Linked DNA regions of Homo sapiens: region 1 is linked to region 2. The links come from fine-mapping of genetic effects on gene expression. A gene starts in region 2. The other region holds a variant in brackets. All regions are shown on one strand. Distances are from middle to middle.

Region 1 (4,391 bases), 34 kb after region 2:
GGGTTGGAATCTTGAATCTAGCCTGCAGTCTTGAACACATTACTCCTATGTGTTTCAGTTTCCTCATATGTGAAGTGTGAGGTTTGTAAGGATTTGATGTGTTATGGCAAAGAATTGTCTGACACATAGTAAGTGCAATGTAAGTGTTTGTTTGATGCCTACATCAGGGGACTTCTGTAAGAGTACAATGAGTTGACCGCCCACTCACAGCATCTAGCTCAGTGCCCGGTTCTCGAGTAATAGTGTCAGCTCCCTGTCTTCTCCCACTCTTTCTCCCTCATTTCAGGCCACTCATTTTCCTGAACTGCAGAGTTCTGTCCTTGTCCACCTTTCCTGGATGACTTTGTCCAAATCTTTGGCTCTGATGACCACTTACAAGCTGATGATGTCTGAATCTCTAGCTCCAGGCCAGATTTCTTGTCAGGCTCTCTGACCAATCTACACAACTTCCTGCTAACCTCTCCACATGATTTCCCCCTGGCACCTGCAACTCATCGTCTTCCTCCTGCCCAATGTGCTGTTTCTCCTGTGTTTCTCATCCCAGGGAGGCATCACTATCCCTCCATCCAGCGCTGTGAGGGCATCCTAGACTGCACCCTCTCACTTCCTCCCTCCACCCCTACGCTCTTCTGCTGTTCCTCCACCCCAGTCCTCCTAGCCAACTGGGTGCCTCCACCCACTGACTCTGCCTTCTACAAATCTCAGGAATCTCTTGGTTCCTTCCCACCCCCACTGCCATTGATTTTGCTTAGCTTTCTGCCACTTTTTCTCAGTACTATCTCAGTAGCCTTCATACCAGTCTCCTCTCTCCCAATCCCTCCTACCCACGTCCCCCTAGCAATTCATATACTGAAGTCCTAACACCCAGCACCATAGGATGTGACTGTATTTGGAGATAGTTTAGAAAATTCACTCAGGTCAAATGAGGTCATAAGGGTGGGACTTCAATCCCATAGGACTGGCACCCATATAAGAAGAGAACAGCTCCAGAGTTTGTGGGCATACAGAGGAAAGACCACATGAGGATACAGCAGGTGGCAGCCATCTACAAACCAGGGAGAGAGCCCTCATCGGAAACTGAACTTGCATCTTGCTCTGGTTTGAATGTGTCAAACCAATTCAAAGCAAAGTCCGTGGATTGGAGACTTAATCCCCAAGGCAACAGTGTTGGGAAGTGAGGTCTAATAAGAGGTGATTAGGTCCTGAGGGCACTGCCTCATGCAGGGATTAATGTCATTATCTCAGGAGCCGGTTTGTTATGGACAGTGGGTTATAAAAGTGAGTCTGGTTCTCTCTGATCCTTTCACCTTTTGCCACAGGAGGACACAGCAAGAAGCCTCTCCCAGATGCTGGCACCTTGATCTTGGACTTCTCAGCCTCTGGAACTGTGAGGCAAATACATTTCTGTTCTTTATAAGTTACCCAGTTGGTGGTATTCTGTTATCACAGCATAAACAGACTAAGACACAAAGTTGGTGGCACTTTGTGATGGCTGCCCAAGCTGTCTAAGCCCCTTCCTCATGCTCAGATACACAGCCTTTGCTTAAGGCTGTGGAAGATGGCTTGCAGCTCCCTGAGGGTGCAGCTGGCTTTCCCTTGATGCTGTGGACAAGCTGTTCCTGCCACACAGCTTCCTACTGTCTTCACAGCCCCTCACTCATCTTTTAAGACCCAGTTTCAACATCACCTACTCAAGGCTAATTTTGGTGTCCTTCCTCCTTGTCCCATAGGACAAATGATACATATTGTGTGTCCCCTTACCACATCCTGTACTATAAGTGTTGTGTTATTGATTTACTTGTCTGTCTCACCCTCTAAGCCCAAGAGAAAAGAAAACAGCATCTTATGCCTTTTTATTCCTGGTACAATGTGGTTTCACAGAAGATATCATATTTATTTT[TA/A]TTGAATGAATGAATAAATGAATGGAAAGCAGCATTGAGTCATGGTTATATATAAAGTTCTGAGAACAGTGCCTGGCATAAATAAGCACTATTGAGTGTTTGTTAAATAAATGAACAAAATATATCTGAACATGTCTCAGATCATTTCTTCTGCAATTGTAACTGTAAAAAGTCTTGTGAAAGCTAAAGTAGGAACATATGGGAAAATAAAAGCCCAGATTTGCAGAGATCCACTCATGCAAATACGTTCAAATTCGAAGTTATTGCATTGATTCCTGACAACTTTAGTCATGGCTAAACTAGAATGGAAAATTTTACTTCCTTCCCTCTGCTTACCTCATTGGGCTCTGCCTGTGTTATTCTCTGAGTTCACTGCTTCCTGTCTTCCCAAACAAACACTCACTTCTGGTGGCAGAGTTCACACAGAAGCTTTCCCAGGCCAGTCAGTTGATCCTGGTTACGTATGTGCTTTTGCACTTTGGTTAAACCTCTTTAATTGCTGGTAGGGTGCTCAGTGCTGTGGGGCACTGGGGCAAATGTAGGTTAGGACATTGCAGCAGCTGGGACCATCCGGTACATGGAGCGTCTGGAGGAGGCGCAAGTGACTTTGGAGAAGAGTGAGTCTGTTAATGTGAACCACGTGTGGGAACCAGGGTACCACTCAATTCTACAAACACTGATGGAATGCTGGCATGGGCTAGGAGTGTGGGACTCCAAGATGCCTAAGACCTGTTCCCTGTCTCCAGGGGCCTCAAGTCAAGCCAGCTACTAGTGGTCAATAAGTGTTGGAGGAGGAGATGGAGGACCTAGGAGGCGGACACGAGCACAGCCAGTTATGTAGGAGAAAGTAAGGATGGAGGGTCTCTAAGCCTAAGAACAGGAGTGTTGGTTAGGTACAGGACACAACTGAGGGCTCATCTAGAACTTTTAATGGGGTTGGATGCAGTTGAAATCACATTTGAGAGGGTATGTTGCAAAGACTTTAAAATTTTCTGTATGCTGTGATGTTTTGGCATTTTAAAAAACCTTTCTGGTTGGTGAGAGATGGCCCCTCCTGGATCTGGCCAATTCTTAGAGAAAGGACTCAGACTGAAGCATGTCTTTGATATGCAAACTAACCAGTGCAGTGCCAGACCTCCTGTATCTGGCCAGTGCATCCCAGGAGGCAGTATTCCTCTGCCTACATCATCCCAGGACCAGGTGCCAGCAACAGAGACCCCTCTTTGTAGCCAAAAGCCTGCCAGAATTATTCAATCTAGCCCATCCAAAACCATTCACCCTGCCCTGCCTTGCCTTTCCCCAGAAACCCCAACAAAGGTTATGGCTTAAATCTCCCCCTCATCCTATCTTCTGCGAGCTCCACCCTGGTGTCTTTCTCATATGGACCAACACAGTGTGTGTGCCCCTTGTCCCTAGGACCTGTGAGTATAATCGGCTTCTTTTTTCCCTGAGCCTCTCCTGCATCTCCTCTTGTGGTTGCACCTGACTATCTTATAAGAGACTAAAAAACCGAGGGATGGCTCTTAGTAACGGTGTCTACAGATAAGATTGGCTTTAGAAAGGGGGTTTCACTAGAAGACCCATCCAACTCTAAAGATTCACACCCTAAAATGGGCAGATTCGGAAAGTCAAGGGGTGAACCCAGGGAATCCCGTAGTATTGTCAAAATTATTGCTGCTCCTGGAACAAAGGGCCAAATTGTTCCTTGGATTTCATGTCTTTCTCCACCCCACTGACAAACAGCATCAACCACAACAACCATAATGAGAATGGCTGACATTTAGTGAAGATTTCCCCATGTCAGACACTGTTCTAAGTGCCTTCAATGGATGATTTTATCTACTCCTCCAAACTATGAACTATTTATATTCCCATTTTATAGAAGGGGAAAAAGAGGCACACGGAGTGCCAGTGACTTGTAACTTGCCCAGCCATACAGCTGATGCAGTGAAGAAGCACTTTTTATAAACCCCTTCCTACCCAAGGCAGCTGAGCTGACAAGATGGAAAAGATGAAAAGCTTCACTCTTCACATCTCTCTGGACTATAGAACAGGAGTGGGAAAAGTATGGTCCACCAGCCAAGTCCAGCCTGCTGCCTATTTTTGTATGACCATGATTAAGAATGTTTTTTCATTTGTATAGAGATTGCACTGAATCTGTAGCTCATTTTGGGTAGTATTGTTAAATAGTTGAAAAAAAACAAAAGAAGAGTAATAATTTTGTGACATGCAAAAATAATACAAAGTAAGCTCACATTTCAAAGTCTTTAAATAAAGTTTTATTGAAACACAGCCACATCCATTTGTTTACATATGGCTGCTTCCATGCTACATAAGCAGAGCTAAGCAGTTGCAACAGAGACTCTCTGGTCCTTAAAGCCTAAAATGTTTACTGCTTACCCTTTTCCAAAGAAGGTTTGCCACTCCCCGCTCTAGAGACCAAACTGGAATTTAGAGTAAGTTATTCTGTCTTCTCTAGGCAACCCTCAG
Region 2 (4,391 bases):
GCAGGGATGTGGGTGGGGTATTGCCTGGCAGTGGGATCAGATACCCCTGAGCCTGCAGGGATGGATGGGTGAAGGGTGTCCTTCCTGGGGAGTCCAAGGGTGCAGGCTGCAGAGATGCCCAGGTCCTGTGCCTGGGAGGGCAGCTGCAGCTGCACCAGGGAGCTCTTGCCCCACCAACTTGGAAGAGGCAAAGCTCCCACTTGTCCCTGGCTCCTGCCTGCTTCATGGAGTGAAAGGCCCAGGTCTGCAGCCGTGGGTTCCACAGGGAGGCTCAGAGGCACAGGGAGGCTCAGACCCACAGCCGCAGTTTGGGTGGCTGTAGCCTCGCCCAGGACTGCAGGGCTCCTGCTTGCTCCATAGAGCAGGAGGCCTGGGTCTGTAGCTGCAGTTTGGGCGGCTGTAGCGGCACAGGGAGCTCCCATCCCAACTCAGAAGGGGCAGCTCCCACGGGCTCCATGGAGTGTTGCAGCCCCAGCTGTGCTTCCCTGCTGCAGCCAGCATGATGGCAGCAGCCACTGCCATCACTAGCAGTGCCGATGGCTACCTGAAGCTGGAAGACGTAAGGACCACTTCTCCCCTAGGGCCTGTAGAGGGAGTGCAGACTTGTCCAGACCTTGATTTCAGGCTCTCGACCTTCAGAGCTGTGAGCAAATACATTTTTGTTGTTTGAATCCACCAGTCTGTGGGAACACATAGCAGCCACAGGAAACTAATACAACACCTGAGAGCCCCATCTGTAGTAATTATTCAATAACAGTTAGTCATCAGTCACCATCAACCTCATCCTATTTCGGACCAAACCTGGGCAGTGGGGACACATCAAGCCTACCATTTGGAGGGTGACTCTCCCAGCAGTGGGGAATGAAGTGGCACAGAGTAGCCATTAGAGGCCCAAGCCTGGAGGTAAAGGGGCGAATTCACCTGGGGGAAAAAGAGCTTTGGAGGCAGAATCAAAGAGACCTGGTGATCAAACTGCAGTCTCAAGGAAGCTGCCTTCCCTTCTAAATTGAGCAGCTAGGACCCTCTTAACTGAACTCTCAAAGTCTGGAAGGTTTGAGGAGGACAAGGAGTGTGATTTTGCACATGTCAAGTTGGAGGCCCTGCTGTGACACCCACATGGAACTGTCTGGTAGACAGTTAGATATTCTGGTCTGAAAAAGTAGGAAGAAAGTCCAAGTCAGAGATAAAGGTTAGAGAGTTGTTGGCACCTTTATGCAGCACTTGAAGCCCTGTGCAGGATATGGTCACAAAGAGAAGGTAAGCCTAGAAGGATCAATCCTGGGGGACTCCAACAGTTCCCAGACAAGAAGGGGATGAAATGGGGAGACAGTGGGAAAACAGGGTGGTTAGAAAGGGAAGAGAAGCATCCAAAGGGGTGCTGTCGGGATGCTAGGAGGGGATCCTCCCTCCTCTGTCTCTCCTGTTTGCCTTCCCATCATATAGAAACTGAGTGTATTAGATATTTTCTGCACTAATTAAGTATTTTCATTTTCCATTCTTAATTTACAACGGAATGAATTGGAATGAAAATATGCATTTCATTCACTCTTTTGGGAGCACAATTCTAGGGAATTTGTACTTGAACAATCCTTCACTGCTCCATAGCCACTGTGGAATCACAGTTACCCAACTATACAGCAGCAATGGCCAATTATTGCCACAAGAGACTATGATGGAGCTGACTACACGGTAATCATGCCACTAGCGTCACAGCTAGAGTGGTTCTCCCTCCACAGACCCAAAAGGCTGAACTGGTGAACCTGCTGCATCTGTGGGCAGAATTAGGATGAAAAGCACTACCTCTGTGAAATACAAAATCTCTGTGGAAGAAAAATCAATTCAGGTTAGAGGCGGCAGCTGAAGGCCATGGCTCCCAGCCTGGTGCGACAGCCCAGGGAGGGCGTCTGCCTCTGCAGACACAGCTGGGACTCCATTCAGCAGCCAACCCTTCCCCCACTTTCCTTGCTGTTTCCAAGATCCTATATGGGGATCGGGACTCAGGCAGGACCTGTTCTCTTCAGAGCTTCCAGGACTTCTCTTTCTTCTTTGCCTTTGGCCCTGTTTTCCTTGGAAAATCACCAGTTCTTCCTTTTTTCCTGTCCCCTCTTAGCCAGGCACTTCCTCGAGTGTTTAAAAACCCTGCGCGTTTTAGGGAGCGGGGATTTGGCAAAGGTTATGCGAAGGACTGAAAAGGGGCAGCGTCATGAAGGCCCTGTCATTCTCCCTGACTCCCCGTCTTTTCCTCAGTTGAGCATACTCCTAAGAGCGATGCCACACCCTTAAATACTAAGGCCCCTTTTTCTCAACAGGACCCTTTCCCCGGGAAAGACCCCAGCCCCGCCCCGCAGACCGGCAGAGTCTGCTGTCTTACTTGGCTGGAGGTTGTGGTGGCAGAGAGAGGGATCCGGAGCCCTGGGCCCAGGCTGTTCCATTCTGCCCCAGGAGGCGGCCGCGGGGCCCTGGCTCCAGCTATCTCAGCGCTTGCGGGAGCCGCGGGCTGCTTTGTGACGCGTCGCCATGGAGACAAGGATCGGGTTCCAGGGAGTTCTGCCCCTGCCAAGGGGTGCTGGCCACGCAGGAGGCTTAACCTGGCCGGCGCGGGAATGGGGTGCAGAGAGCAAAGAAATGTGGCTTTGATCTTATGGATGCCTTACTTTTACATTATTTGTACAGTTCTTGCAGTGAGCTTTCCGGACCACTGTCTTGTATGTTTCCTAAGAAAAGCAAAAAGGGAAGAGATTGAAGAGAAAGTAGATTTTCAACTACAAACTTTCATCCATTTGCTTTCAGCTTAAGCAAATGTGCGCAAAGTTGTCATGGATTTTTGCAGTCAATAAAAACCAAGCAAGAAGACTGAATCCCAAGTCATCTGGTATAAATGGAAGCAGTTTCTGTGATAGTTCCACGCGGTCAGAAGGGTCATCCTGGCTTAGGAGAGGGGCAGAAGAGGAAATGCACGCGTGGAAACAGGAGTGGGCAGGGAGGATGTGACACTGTCCTCCTCACCAGGCCACGTTCCTGGCACCAACCATAGTGTTTGTGAGGGTCAATTTAATTGTTCTTGTGCTCTCATAGAGGAAGCTGTGTCTTTCATCCCCTTGTAAGAGTTTTCACTGATGAAGGGGGTCTTTTATCTTCATATCTTGGGAACTACTGAAACTGTTTCAAAGAGTCAAAGACACCAATAACTAACAGAAATTCTTGTTTTCAGGGGCAGATAAGAAAAGAAACAATTTGCTGAAACTCCCTCTGCTTATAACAAAACTGACTGAAATCAGCCGGAATCAATATGGCCAAATGCAGTTTGCGCACAGCAAGCTTGCTGATGTCACAGCCTGAATTTCTACTGCATGTTTCATACCAACTCCCTCCAAATTTGCACATGGGACCCACCAGGAAGCATGAAGAGAGAGCCATGCATGCCTGAAGACTTCCCAGATGTTCCCTTTGCTTCCACCAATCACCTGCTAACCCCAGGATCCAACCCTAAACCTTTTGTAATAAAATTACTGCCCTAAAGCCAGTACAAGACAGATTTGAACTGGACTTTTGTTTCCTCAGAAGTTAACTTGCAATGTGAAGCTTTCCTTTTCTCAAAAACTTGGTGTCATAGTGTTGGCTTCTAGTGCAGTGAGCCCCTTTTGCTGGATAACCTTACCTGGTAATTTGACATACTAGGTGGTTAGTAACTACTGACTGTCTCCAGGTTACAACACAGTTATTACCCACTTGGGTGAAAAGAGAAGACAGGAAATACATTTTGGAGTTGGCTGGCAACCTGTTTACAAAGCAATTTACAACAGTTCCTTATTCTTAAGGGGCTATTCTAATACAAGACCTCAGAGAAACAGTGCAGTGTGACAAAGGAGGAATTTATCAAAGGAGACAGAAAAAGCATCAAGGTAAGGATCCCAAATATATGTGCAAGGAATGTCTTTAAAATGAAGAGCTAAACTAGAATTTCCTGAAGGTAGAGTTCTATCCATATAATGGAATGAATATAACACATTATAAACTCTCATGTTTTGAAGCAATGGAGGGTGGAACACATTAGAAGGCATAGATGTTATTAAAAGGAATGAGTCTAAATTAGGATTTAGTAGTGGCATCTAAATTTAAAAAGTAGCACCCAATAACAGATTACTGTCTGGAAATGGTAGAGCTAATTAGCATAGCATAATTTAAGAGAAATATATGTTTAAAATAGAGCAGCAAGTATATAGAATTTTGAAAGTGAATTCTTATTAATATCTTACAATTTGTCTCATTTTAGGCAAGCTGTGAAATGGTGCGGTAGGAACCAAATAGAGAGCCAAAGGATCTTTCTGTCACTGCAGGCCCTTAGGGGTAAGCAAATCCTTCCCTGATCCCTGGTCTCCTTATCTGTAAAT

Direction of the effects. Alleles are on the strand shown, and positions count from the first base shown. SD is a standard deviation of normalised expression in the study named.
In carriers of allele A in region 1, the expression in aorta of the gene that starts at base 2,540 in region 2 tends to be lower than with TA alone (small effect, 0.24 SD a copy in GTEx).

What was found. PIP is the estimated chance that this variant, and not a neighbour inherited with it, causes the effect. A credible set is the group of variants that fine-mapping cannot tell apart.
Region 1: its variant is the best candidate, but not a certain one, in a credible set for the expression of TEX26-AS1 in aorta (GTEx, PIP 0.74).

The regions. Positions count from the first base shown.
Region 1 is chr13:30,896,915-30,901,305 of GRCh38, reverse strand. All of the region lies in intron 2 of TEX26-AS1 (TEX26 antisense RNA 1), which reads left to right. Among named protein-coding and RNA genes, the nearest start is that of MEDAG, 7.2 kb to the left of the region's middle. The variant TA/A (reference allele first, on the strand shown) is at 1,901.
Region 2 is chr13:30,930,757-30,935,147 of GRCh38, reverse strand. It overlaps TEX26-AS1 (TEX26 antisense RNA 1), which reads left to right and starts at 2,540. Exons shown (of 4, transcript NR_038287.1): 1 at 2,540-3,902; 2 at 4,274-4,347. It overlaps TEX26 (testis expressed 26), which reads right to left and starts at 2,492. Exons shown (of 7, transcript NM_152325.3): 1 at 2,372-2,492. The coding sequence starts at 2,432.